Linked DNA regions of Homo sapiens. The protein of the gene in region 2 purifies or fractionates together with the protein of the main gene of each other region. This does not show direct contact. Each region holds a gene or a part of one and is shown on either strand. Other genes may lie near its edges.

Evidence for each region.
Region 1: the proteins of TLK2 (region 2) and PCCA purify together in Homo sapiens (affinity purification with mass spectrometry; one large-scale study listed by BioGRID and IntAct). This does not show direct contact.
Region 3: the proteins of TLK2 (region 2) and MTMR3 purify together in Homo sapiens (affinity purification with mass spectrometry; one large-scale study listed by BioGRID and IntAct). This does not show direct contact.
Region 4: the proteins of TLK2 (region 2) and IFFO1 purify together in Homo sapiens (affinity purification with mass spectrometry, with the first as the bait; one large-scale study listed by BioGRID). This does not show direct contact.

The regions. Positions count from the first base shown.
Region 1 is NC_000013.11:100,270,593-100,274,092, forward strand, and holds part of PCCA (propionyl-CoA carboxylase alpha chain, mitochondrial isoform a precursor), read left to right. Parts: intron 1-2,603; coding exon 2,604-2,754; intron 2,755-3,500. UniProt on the Homo sapiens protein: This is one of the 2 subunits of the biotin-dependent propionyl-CoA carboxylase (PCC), a mitochondrial enzyme involved in the catabolism of odd chain fatty acids, branched-chain amino acids isoleucine, threonine, methionine, and valine and other metabolites.
Region 2 is NC_000017.11:62,597,325-62,600,824, forward strand, and holds part of TLK2 (serine/threonine-protein kinase tousled-like 2), read left to right. Parts: intron 1-3,326; coding exon 3,327-3,496; intron 3,497-3,500. UniProt on the Homo sapiens protein: Serine/threonine-protein kinase involved in the process of chromatin assembly and probably also DNA replication, transcription, repair, and chromosome segregation. Phosphorylates the chromatin assembly factors ASF1A and ASF1B.
Region 3 is NC_000022.11:30,026,174-30,028,770, forward strand, and holds part of MTMR3 (phosphatidylinositol-3,5-bisphosphate 3-phosphatase MTMR3), read left to right. Parts: 3' UTR 1-2,597. UniProt on the Homo sapiens protein: Lipid phosphatase that specifically dephosphorylates the D-3 position of phosphatidylinositol 3-phosphate and phosphatidylinositol 3,5-bisphosphate, generating phosphatidylinositol and phosphatidylinositol 5-phosphate.
Region 4 is NC_000012.12:6,546,043-6,549,542, reverse strand, and holds part of IFFO1 (non-homologous end joining factor IFFO1), read left to right. Parts: intron 1-58; coding exon 59-67; intron 68-693; coding exon 694-875; intron 876-997; coding exon 998-1,118; coding exon of another isoform or gene 1,119-1,382; coding exon 1,383-1,478; intron 1,479-3,500. UniProt on the Homo sapiens protein: Nuclear matrix protein involved in the immobilization of broken DNA ends and the suppression of chromosome translocation during DNA double-strand breaks (DSBs).

The DNA.
Region 1 (3,500 bases), on a different chromosome or scaffold from region 2:
GGAAAATATACAGCAGTAGGAATCAAAATGAAAAAGCTAGAACTCATCATTAATACTGACCTGATATGTATTTGTACACTGTGAAATGTTAAAATAAATGGAATGTGTAGTTTTCAGTTCCTGGAGTAAGAATCGGCTGGGCATGGTGGCTCACACCTGTAATCTTAGCACTTTGGGAGGCTGAGGTGGGAGGATTGCTTGAGCCTAAGAGTTTGAGACCAGCCTGGACAACGTAGTGGGACCTCATCTTCACAAAAAAGTAAAAAATCAGCTGACTGTGGTGGCATATGCCTATAGTTCCAGCTACTTGGGAGGCTGAAGTGGGAGGATTGCTTAACCCCAGAGGTCGAGGTTGCAGTGAGCCGACATCATGCCACCAGATTCCAGCCTGGGTGACAGAGCAAGACCCTGTTCTCCCCCACCCCCCGAAAAATAAAAATAAAAAAAAGAATCTACTAATGTGCTTTGAGGGCAATGCTAGCTAGGGTCACTCATATCTCTGGATATCTAGCAGGGCTTTTGAAAAGGGCAAGGGCAAGATCAAATAGGAGAAAGATAGTTTCACAGAGCTGCACTGAGATTCTCCAGATGTTATGCTATTAATTGTTAGTTGGGGTTTTTTTTAGTTGCATTAATTTTGTCAGCCAGTTATTGTTGAAATGTCATCTATGTCTATACATTAGGTTAATGCAAACTATATTATAGATAATTCATAACACTTGAACCCATTGATTTATTGTAACTTCACCAAAAGGGAGACAGTAGGAAGTACACTTCCCACCTGTGAACTCTTCCCCCTCCCCCACCCCAATCCAACTTGAATATATTCAAGGCTCTGAGTCTAACTAGCAATCTATATGAAATAGAAATGTAATATGAATGTTAAAAGACACCGTGGGGTTGCATGCAGTTGAACCAAGAATGTGAGAAATAAGACAGTAAAATGACCAGATCCTTGGCCAGAAAATGGGGAAGGGGCATTACAGATTAAAAGAGTCTTAAGATACAAAAGCCAATCAAATGCAGTTTTGGACCTTATTTGGATCCTGATTCAAAGAAATCAGCTGTATAAAGATATTTATGAGATAGAGAAATTTGAATACCAAGTGGATATTAAATGCTTTTAAGGAGTTCTTGTTTTTTGTGTAGTTGTGTTACAAAAGGGTACTTTATCTCATAGAAACAGACATGTATGTTTTTAAAAGTGAAATGATACCTAATTTGGGATTTACTTTAAAAACAATAAAGGGTGGGCCTGGTAGAGAAGTGGGCAAGTAGCATAGATAAAGCCAGAGTGGCTATGTATTAATAATTGCTATATATTGGAGGCAGCTTCATGCAAGTTTTTTATACTATTCCATAATAAAGCTTTTATAGCATGTCATCTCAATCCTGCTCATTTGAGAATAATTTTAATCCACAAGTAGAAAAGTAGTTAATGTTTTGTTTCTCAGAGCCTTTCTTTCATAGAAGCAAAATCTGTGAAAATGCAAAGTGGTTTGATGATATTTTTTTCAGGGTTTGTTGAAGTCATTTTAGCTTAACTTGCCTGCTTGAAGGTGGGTTTGGTATCTTGAAGCCAAACGTGCAGGATTTAGTGGATGTATTGCTGATTCTTGTTATTTGTGGCAGTTATGTTCTCTAAAGTCACCTTGATTACTGAATTAGTGAACACTGAATAATTTCCCCTAGGGGAAATACAGGGTTAGGTTCCTGCGAGCCTTTGCTTATAACATTTTCCTCAGTGGATTAATACATAATTTTGTTTTTTGTGTATTTCTCATTTAATATCTGTGGTTGATTCATTAACAGTGAACTCACAATCCTGGCCAACAAGACTATAACACGTGCCTGAGTAAAGCTTATCCCACACACATTTTCTCCAGACAGTACTTCATGGCCTTCTTGCACATGGGAACCCCAGACAGCACCTAAGGACAATGCTTGATGGGCCATTTCACACCATGAAATGACACACACACACACACAAATGCAAAAAAAGTGACACTAAACAGACCTTGAAAAGGATGCTTGTTATAGTATGAGCATTGAAACGAGAAGGGAGAGCATCACCTTGTTCAGCCTTAGCATACTGGAGTCTCAAATTTTTCACCTCTCTGCACTTGTTCACAAAGGACCATGAAAGCGCCTTAAGTATTGATTTTGGGGTTACAAATAAATTTCAGCAAGTAGGCAGATTTGTAAATATGGACTACATGAGCAATGAGGATTGATTGTGTATGTTAGATACTAATAAGTTATTTTTCTCCCAGTTTTTGGCTCGAAGCAATTCTGAATATATATGTTAAATATTAGAAGTTGAAGAGTAGTTATATATTTTGTGAATGGATTGAAGTTGCAGAGTAATGTGAAAAGTTCAAATGTTTTATACAAATCTAAAGTTGACTTATTTGAGCATGTTATGCTTAATAATATAGTCAACATATATTATAAAACATATATAAAGCACAATATTTTGAATTCTTAAATTGGTATAGATGATCTATATCTGAGTAAACTTTAAGAAAATGTTTATGTAATGCACACAAAAGATAACTTGATTTTTGTCCGAAATGTAGACAAACATTTTTTTGTATATGTAGCATTTTTTTGGATGCGGAGACTCGAAGAGCGATGGGAGAACAAGCTGTAGCTCTTGCCAGAGCAGTAAAATATTCCTCTGCTGGGACCGTGGAGTTCCTTGTGGACTCTAAGAAGAATTTTTATTTCTTGGAAATGAATACAAGACTCCAGGTAACAACAACTGTTATTTATTCCTCTCCATGCCTCTGTACTTTACCCTTCCTTCTCCACCCTTTTTTGTTTTATAAATGTTAAAAAATTAACTCCATAAAGTGTTAAATAAAGATTTAGTTTTTATGCTTGTGCTAAGACATCTGTTAGGAATGACGGATAGTATCCCTCTAAAGTTCAATGTCTAGACCTCTGCTTTGTCACTGTTAATACTTTATGTTGGAAATACCACTTTGTTTTTTTCTTGAACCTTTCTAGATGAACTGTATTTGTCAGTGTGTATGTGCTGTTAAGAAAAATTACTCTAGATATTACAAATAGGAAGTGATACAGTGATTGCAAAATCTTTGGAAGGATGGAGGAAGGAAGGGTACCCAGAGTGAACTTCGGTGGTGACTCCCACTGCTGTACCACTCAGCCAGGCTCCCAGAGGAACCGGCACCTCTGCCACAGTGAGGACGTTGAGAATCAAGTGGCTGCCCTTGGAACTGTTGGCTTTGGGGGACATAACTTCCTTAGTTCTAACCAAATCTCAGGAAGCGACTGGCGTTGTAACCGGTGGCTTTATTTCCTTCCTTCTTCCCTTTTTTCTTTCATTTAAATTGTGAACTATACAGAAACATACATAGAACACAGGTGAATAATTGAATGTATTATTATAAAGCAAAAATCAATGTAAACATCAACTGGGCCTAGAAGTATTTACAAAACAGCCAGCTCTTTTTACACTAGCCTCATTTTCTTCT
Region 2 (3,500 bases):
CTGTGTCAGTACTTCATTCCTTTTTATGGCAAAATAATATTCCATTGTGTGGATATACCACATTTTGCTTATAACGGTTTGATAACCAGCTCACAAAATTCTTGAAAATTTAAGTCAGCTCTTGGAAACTGGCATGAGTTGGTGCCAGCATGCCACTGACGTGCACTAGTGAGTGTAGACTGTTCAAGAGAGTTTCTGCTCACCCCAGAGACTCTTATGAACATTGACAGACCTTTTTAAAAAGTACTGGCCGTGTGATTTTATCCTAGACTGAGATAAGAAATGTGGCACTAATGAAGACAAGGCTCAGTGCTACATGTTGAAATACAGGCTCATAGGCTTATAGGATGTTAGAATAGGAAGGGATCTCAGAGTCCAGCCTTTTCATTTTATAGGTGGATTTTGAGGACCAGAGAAGTTAAATAACTTGTCTGAGATAGTTATTAATTGTGGGCATTGCTATATTTTGTTACTTGGTATAGGTAACCTCCCGTGCCTCTGGGTTTATCCAGCAGTTTAGCTGGATATATCTCAGCATTTGGAAATGTTTCTCTGTAGAAGTCTGAACTGAATCAGAATATACCCTAGGTCTAGACTTCAGGTTCCCTCAGCCTCCCAGGGTAATTCTAGGAGTTTTGGTCTGTTCTAGCCAACAGTCTCAGATATGGCTGTGCAGACAGCTGCCTTACATTTAGAAATAACCCCAAAGAGGACTATAATTCCCTTTGGAAACATGACCTGGGCCATTCTCTCAGGGATTTCTTCTCATTTGGGTAGCCCTGGCACTGAGCTTAGCCATGTGTGTTTCACGTGGAGTGGAATTTTTTTAAAAAGATCTAGTTAGAAGGCAGGATTGGGAAACAAGGGGCGGGGCATGACATTACTGTTTTGCCTTGAGCAAATTTCTTGAATACTAGGTAGACCCCCCTCTCTGAACTATTAAGTTCAAGAACTATTTCAAAGTTAAATATCAGGCTCAAATTATCTGCTGTTTTGAATTGTATACACACTTTTAACTAATGTGAGAAATTGAGTTGGTTCTATACTATTCTTGAGTTGATTACTTTGTTCTTCCTATTGTATGTATGATGAATTTTCACCAAAAATAAGTCAGACCATGATTTTTAGAACATCTTCTGAGAATTGTTTGGGTATTAAAAGTGAGGCTTTATTTTCTTTTCTTTCTTTTGTTTTGGTTGTTTTCCTTTTTTTTTTCCTGAGATGGAGTCTCACTCTGTTGCCCAGGCTGGAGTTCAGTGGTGCGATCTTGGCTCACTGCAACCTCCACCTCCCAGGTTCAAGCGATTCTCCTACCTCAGCCTCCCATGTAGCTAGGATTACAGATGCACGCCACCATGCCTGGCTAATTTTTGTATTTTTAGTAGAGACAGGGTTTCACCGTGCTGGGCAGGCTGGTCTTGAACTCTTGACCTTGTGATCCGCCCGCCTGGGCCTCCCAAAGTCCTGGGATTACAGGCTTGAGCCACCGCGCCTGGCTGAAAGTGAGGCTTTATTTTCAACTTGCATTTGGGTGAAAGAATCATTCCATTGAGCATGAGTCTATATTTCAGATTTCAGAATCTCAGATCAGAGGAATCTATAAATTTCAGACATTTCTTTTTTTAATTTTATTTTATTTGAGATGGAGTCTTGCTCTGTTGCCCAGGCAGTAGTGCAGTGGCATGATCTTGGCTCACTGCAACCTCCACCTCATGGGTTCAAGCAATTCTCCTGCCTCAGCCTCCCAAGTAGCTGGGATTACAGGCATGCGCCACCATACCTGGCCAATTTTTTGTATTTTTAGTAGAGACAGAGTTTCACTATGTTGGCCAGGCTGGTCTCAAACTCCTGGCCTCAAGTGATCCACCCATCTCTGCCTCCCAAATTGCTGGGATTACAGCAGACATTTGTTTTCAAATAGGGTGTTAGCATGCCCTGCCATGTTTCTTAAGATACATAAGATATTGTTCAGTTTGTGGTGTCCACAGGACCATGTGTGTCCATGTTCAATTGCAGTGCTTTATGAAGGCCTCAAATTGCTCAGTGGCCCATAGCGCTAGACCTGAGTCTGTTTGCTCTCAGTTCTGTTCCTCGCCCTTTCGCTGCTCTGTATCTTTGGGGGGTTAGCCCGTGTAGGCTGTGTTTATCAGGCCCATGTGTCCATTGGTGTTCTGTTGGTTTCAGCCAATGGGAAGGCAGAAATGGGAGGGGGTCTCCACCTCCTCTCCCTCCCCGCAATTCTAGTTTCCCCTGATGACCCTGGGTTCTGGTTTCACCATCTCCTCCCTTCTGGCCTGCTTGCCTGAGGGTGCTAATGGCTTCCTGCTGTAGATGATCTCTAGGGTGCCTCACTGACCAGTTTGTCTTCTCAGCTCTTCCATCATCTGTATGATCAGTTCCCTGAATTAAAGTCTCTCTGTTTTAAATGTTCAGGTGGTTTTTTTTTCCAGGCTAAACTGACTGATACACCCACATTGTCACAACTTAGAAAACTTCAAAACGTATTCATCCCTCAGGAATATTCAAACAGTTCAGGACACCTTACTTCAGAGTATAATGCCTTGGAAGATAGACACGTGACCTGTGATGCCACCAATGGCATATGGTTTTATGTATGGGTCTGTATGACATATTGACATAAGGGAAGGAAAGAGAACCCACATACTTTTGTTAGAACCATAGATACTATACTTTACAAGCTCTTTTACACCTTGTGTTTAAGAGAAATTGTAGTGCAGTATTGTGCCAAGCTGTCAGAAGACGTAGTATGCAGTCAGTTTTTGGGACGTGGGCAAACTCTAGATTCTTACTCATTGCCAGCACTCAGGGTTATATAAAATGTTTGCAGTGCGAATTGTGTACCTAGCCAAAATTGCGCCACTGCACTCCAGCCTAGGCAGCAGAGTGAGACGGAGTCTCAAAAAAAAAAAGAGAGAATTGTGTACTTGATCACATTCTGGTTGTTTAGACGTGGATGTGTGGCATGGGTGTGTAAAGGAGCCCCTTCCAAGAAGATACCTAGCTTAAATACATTATAGTTCTTATCAGTATTCTTATAGTCTAGACTCAAGAAGAGGTCTGCCATGGGTGAACTTGAGCACAACAGATTCCAACATTGAGGGTGTGGAAACTCTTCAAGAGAATAAGCAGTTTCTTACCAGAAACCCCTCAGCTAATACTGAATAAACAATTGAAGAGTATTTTAAGGAACAAAGAAGAAAGGAGTGAGAAGCTGATGACCTGAAGTTTTCACATGGGACTAATTTAGGTAGTGTTAATCTGCTTGCTCTTATTCCATGGTTAAATATTGGTTTATTTGTCTTTAGGTTTTGTACAGTATTAGAATACTGTGAGGGAAATGATCTGGACTTCTACCTGAAACAGCACAAATTAATGTCGGAGAAAGAGGCCCGGTCCATTATCATGCAGATTGTGAATGCTTTAAAGTACTTAAATGAAATAAAACCTCCCATCATACACTATGACCTCAAACCAGGTAT
Region 3 (2,597 bases), on a different chromosome or scaffold from region 2:
GGAGTATGGAGATCTGAGACCGTGAGCAGGGAAGAAAGCCAGTGCTAACATGCAACCATTCCTCACGCCACCGCCACATCAGAGCTGGTTGGGAACCCTTTGCTGCTGGGGAGGCTGGAAGCATATTCCCCAAGAGCACTGCCCTGGGCATCATCTCCCTCCTGCGAGGAGCTGAGCCAGTCCCCTCACAGATGGATAAATGAGGCTGATGTTTGGAGGGAGAGGCACACGGTAAATGGCATCCCCTTAGGCGCCTCTTTGGGAAAGGAAAGTGGATGCTCCTTTGAGGCAGGCGAGGGGCTGGGAGTGGGTAGCCGTCATGTTGTCCCCCGTGGGATCCCATTTTTAACTTGACCCAGATTGTCTTGGGCTCCTTTTACTTTCAGGGGGCTGCTTTCCTGGGCCAGGCTGTGTAGCACTTCCCACCCTCAGGCATGAGTACAGACTGGTCAAAATGTTTATGCAGTCAAGGCCAAAGCCTGCCCTGAGCCCAGACACACCTGGGTCCCCATTCTGGGGCCTGGTCCCCTAAACAATCTCTTCCTCAGCCAGCACAGGGAAATCCAGACTCAGGGTTCCAGAAATCCCCCGTTCCCAAACCAAACCAATCATGGATCTTCCCTTTAAGGGGTAGAATCAGCCTTTAGAGTTACAAGCCCCTGGAAAAGGGAGCAGGTCCCATACAATCAGCCTTTCTCCTCTTCTCTTCTTGGGACAGGAATAACTGCTGAGCAGTCCCCCTTTGCCACTCCTGGCTGTCTGAGTGGGCACTTGTCTGGCTGCTGGCCAGCAGTGAAGGGCCACTTGGTGACTTCGTAGGGTTCCTTAGAGAAGTGACATGGCCTTGAGGAGATTCAGGGCACCTTTCCTCAGTGAGCTTTGATATGGTCCAAAAACAGCCTTAAATCAAGAATATTTGTGGAGGTAGGTGTGGGGAAGGTTGGAGAAGAGTTAGGTTTGTGCTTTGTAATCTTGGCATCCATGTTTTGTGCCTGCCCTCCCTCTTGGGGAGGCCATGCTTGACTCTGCTGAAAGCTGCTAACTGGTGACAGGGTGGATCATGGTGAGGACTAGGGGTAAGGTCAGGGAATGCTTAAGCTCTGGCCCTGCCCTGTATTCCTCTTCCCCTTGGTAGCAGTTCCCTGACCAAGGGCAAGGTGTGTCTCAGGAAGGTGGTTCTGTGCATGCCTGGGTGTGGTTAAGGCGTGGCCCAGAAGGCTTCCCTGGTGCTCTCAGTCCAGGCAAAGCCCAGAGCATCTGAGCACGTCTCTGACTTCCAGTGGCAACACAGTTTGAACGTGGTGAAACAGGGTGTAGTTCTTTTCCACATTCTGTGTCATCTAGTCGTGCAGGTAGGGAAAAAGTTGGTCTAATTGAAGATTGTGCATTTCCTAGTGACAGGTGCCAAGAGGTTATGATACGGGTTTCTTGGGTCTGATGTACAGTGTGAATAAATGCTTGCAGCTCTTAGCTCTTTTTTGATCGATGAAGCACTTTTTTATTAATATTTTCCTTTGTTAAAGGAGGAACCGTAACTCTCCATAGCTGTACATATAACCCTTTTCTCCTAAAGAGGAGTCAGTCAGTGCTCCTATATTTTTCATTTTTTGTCAAAGCAAGAAGTAAATACTTTAGAATTGTTAAATATATAAATAAAGCAAATAAAGTTGAGTGTTCCACATGGTAGCATTTGCTAACACTTCCTAATTCTTTGCCCTGTGGTTTATCCCCTCTTCGTCCCTTTTCCCTCTCACACAGAAGTGTTTGAGGGCCTGCTGGGAAACTGACCTTTGGCAAAGGAAAGCTACAGATAGCCTTCCGACTCTAGACCTTGGCAAGGAGCCTCACCATGATGTTCAAGCACTGAACGCATTTCCTCAGTGATTTTGCTCCTAAAATCTCCCAGGCTAAAAGAGGGCAAAGCAGTCAGGGATCTGACCTGGCAGCTATTCCTCCTTCTCTGAAGAGTTCCCATCAGTAGTCATTACAACTACCTCTCGCCTCAAGGCTCCATTTTTAGCTGCTGCTCTGATTTCAGGGCAGCCAGTACTCTGGCCCCTTCAGTCGGGGAGTGGAAGGAGATGTGGGGTGGGGGTGAGAAAATGCTTCTGCCTGTTGTTCTTGAAGGATAGACTATGGGTGGGCAGAGAGAACTGGGGGCAGAAATGGAATTAGATGTGATTGGGTTATGCAGTCAACTAGAGGTCTCCTTCCCGCCCTCTCTCCACACAGAGAGGAACCTCTGCTCCTTAGCTCTTACAGCAGGACTGTGGCATCTAGTCACTTCAATACTAGTTCTTGCTCTTCACAGAGGTAGATTTTTCTTTACCCTACAGCACTGTTGGGCATCCCTCCCATCACATGGGTCTGTGGGTGAGATATGTTATGCTGTTCCTCCCTCGGGAAGGTTGGTATTGAGGGGTGCCTTGCTCCAGAGGCGCCAGCCCAGCATCTGTGGTGAGTTGGCTAAGATCCAGAGTGACCTGCTCAGAGCTCCCCAGAGGCCTTCACTCTTTGGGGCAGTCTCTCTAGGGTCACTTTCTGAATGTACCTTCTACCTAAAGTATACAAACACAAAGAGCCAGCTGAGCTGGTTC
Region 4 (3,500 bases), on a different chromosome or scaffold from region 2:
TCCTCTGTCTGCTTCCTCTCCTCTCTTCCTCTCATCTTCTCTCTTGCTTCCTCCACAGAAGAAGCTGGTTAGTTTGATCTCACGCAAGCTTATTAATGTCCCAGTCCCAGTTTCTAAGCTGCCTAGGCCTCCTGGCCCTCAGTTTGGGCCCGCTGGGCTCTTGAGCACGGATTTTTTTCTGCCCTTTCCCTTTTCCTTGCTCTTCCCCCTTTTTCTCTCTATCTCTTGTTCTCTTGACTGCATTTCTTTCTCTCCCTTCTCCCCCGGCTTTCCAGATCTGGATGTGATTCAGGTTCTCTTTTGTACACATTGCACACTCATCCTCCTTGCGTCCTAAAGCTTTTTTTTTTTTAGTTGAGTCATTTAATCAAAAAGACTTTTTTTAGAAAAAAATTTCCTCTTGAGCCATCATGCACATCTGACTGCAGCCCCAGCGAGCCCTTCCTTCCTTGTCTGACTGCTCTTCTTCTCGATTTCTTCTTGTTCTGCCTTCTCGGTTTGCAGCCCTGACCCCCGCTGTGTGTCTGGCCCTTGGTGACTGTCCGTGTTTCTGTTCCTGTCATTGTAACTGTGACTTTTCTCTCTGTCTGCCCCCCCTTCCTACTGGTTCATGCTTCTCCCCCATTCCCACCCTCTCTGCCCGGCCTCCCGCTCCCGCCCTTTCTCCTCATGCACCCGGCCTCGTCTCTGTAGTCTCTGCACTTGTCTCCCATTAAGGTCCCATCCATGGGGGGGCGGAAGCGGGAGCGCAAGGCTGCCGTCGAGGAGGACACCTCCCTGTCGGAGAGTGAGGGGCCCCGCCAGCCCGATGGGGATGAGGAGGAGAGCACAGCCCTCAGCATCAACGAGGAGATGCAGCGCATGCTCAACCAGCTGTGAGTCCGCAGGCCGTGCTCCCGCAGCACCGACGCCACAGCAGCCCAGGAGGCCGGAGCTCCCCAGTCCCCCGCCAGGACGAGGCCCCGCCCGCCCTGACACCCGGGTTCCCTGTCTCTAGGAGGGAGTATGATTTTGAGGACGACTGTGACAGCCTGACTTGGGAGGAGACTGAGGAGACCCTGCTGCTTTGGGAGGATTTCTCAGGCTATGCCATGGCAGCTGCAGAGGCCCAGGGAGAGGTAACCTCTGCTCCCGGCCTCAGGGCCCTCTGGCTCTGCCTCTCCAGCCTGAAGCCCACTCCCCCGCTCCTCTCCTTGCTCTGTCCCCCCATGTGGCTGTCATCCTCTACCTGCGTCTCCCCTCTTCCTTTATCCTTTTGCTTTTCTTTCTCCAGTTTCTTTAACCAGACTTCCTCTCTCTCTCTCTCCCTGACTTGGCCCTTTGGAATGCGTCCCATCCCATCCCTCCTTGGCTGGCCTCCCCCGCTTCCCTTTCTACTCCAGCAGCAGGAAGATAGCCTGGAGAAGGTGATTAAAGATACGGAGTCCCTGTTCAAAACCCGGGAGAAGGAGTATCAGGAGACCATTGACCAGATAGAGGTAAGGGCAGGAGCGGAAGCCAGGGGCGTGGTGTCCCAGAGGGTTTTGAGTGGGGCTGCAGGCGCAGTGGCCTCATCCCTGCTGCAGGACCCTAGAGACCAAGGTCTTGGGAGGAGGAGTGATCTCTCAGCTATAGTCCTCCTGGTGGGCTCTGAAGACCTCAGGCTCTGGAAACAGACAGATATCGGTTCAAATCTCAGCTCTGTTACTTACAACCACCCTGAACTTGTAATAAGTTACTTGTTCCCTCTGAGCCCCTCCTTTCCTTTCCTTTCCTTTCCTTTCTTTCCTTCCTTCCTTCCTTCCTTTCTCTCTCTCTCTCTCTTCCCCTCCCCCTCTATCCCTCCCTCCCTCTCTCCCTTGTCTTTCTGTCCTTTCTTTTTTGAGACAAGGTCTCACTCTGTTTCACTCTGTTGCCTAGGCTGGAGTGATCCTCCCACCCCAGCCTTCTGAGTAGCTGGGCCCACAGGTGTGTGCCACCATACCCAGCTAATTTTTATTTGTATTTTTTTGTAGAGATGGTGTCTCCCTGTGTTTCCCAGGCAGGTCTTAAACTCTTGGGCTTAAGTGATCCTCCTGCCTCGGCCTCCCAAAGTACTAGAATTAGAGACATGAGCCATGTGTCCAGCCCTACACCTGTTTCTTTTTCTTTCTTTCTTTCTTTCTTTCTTTTTTTGAGACAGGGTCTTGCTCTGTCACTCCAGGCCCACTGCAGCCGTGATCTTCTGGATCCAAGCAATCCTCCTACCTCAGCCTCCCAAGTAGCTGGGACCACAGGCGTGTGCTACCACGCCCGGCTAATTTTTTGATTTTTTTTACAGAGAACAGGGTGTCACTATGTTTTCCAGGCTGCCCTCAAACTTCTGGATTCAAGCAGTCCTCCTAACTCGGCCCCACAAAGTGTTGGGATTACAGGCATGAGCCACTGTGCCGGGCCTTTTTATTTGTAAAATGAGGAATTTAATAATACCTCACCTATAGGGTTGTTTAGAAGATCAGATGAAATAATGCATATATAGAGCTTAGGGCAGTGTCTGGCTCATAGCGAGTGTAGCATAGTGGGGACTGTTTTATTATTATTAACACTATCAGTGCCATGGCACTCAGAGATGGACTGGGACTTTCCTGTTTCTTCCACTCAGCCTTTGAGATAACAGAGAAATCTCCATGCTTTTTCCCAAGCCTTGAAGTACCTTCTAGAGGTACCTAGAGGCAAGTGGAGCTGGTGCTTTAGCTCAAACTCTAGGCTTTAGGAGCTGCAAGAAGGATTTGTGGAGGCCGGGCGCGGTGGCTCACGCCTGTAATCCCAGCACTTTGGGAGGCCGAGGCGGGAAGATCACGAGGTCAGGAGATCGAGACCATCCTGGCTAACACGGTGAAACCCCGTCTCTACGAAAAATACAAAAAAAAAAAATTAGCTGGCCGTGGTGGCAGGCACCTGTAGTCCCAGCTACTCGGGAGGCTGAGGCAGGAGAATGGCGTGAACCCGGGAGGCGGAGCTTGCAGTGAGCCGAGATCGCACCACTGCACTCCAGCCTGGGCGACAGAGCAAGACTCCGTCTCAAAAATACAAACAAAGGAAGAAGGATTTGTGGAACCACAGAATGGAGGTTGCTGTTGCTGTGGGAGGAGGGATGGACGGGACCCCCGTGAGCTCTCCTGGCCTGGTGAGGTGGTCCTTTCCCGACGCTCTGACTTTGGGAGAGGCATGGAGCCTTCTCTGCGTCTCAGCCTCTCTTCAGGCCCACATGGGAGATTCATACGTAGTCCCCCCTTATCTTCAGGGCATGTGTTCCAAGACCCACAGTGGATGCCTGAAACCAAAGATAGCACTGACCTCCTGATAGCTTGGGTCCAGTTGCTGTCAACTGGAACGTGTTTCTGTTCATGTCTCCCACCCACACATTCAATGCCTTTTCTATCTTAACTAAGCACTTAGCGTGCGCTGTGGCGGTACCTTTTGCAGTTCGAGGTGTGACAGCAAAACTGGCACAAATTTCTTTTTCCTTCTTTACAATTTCA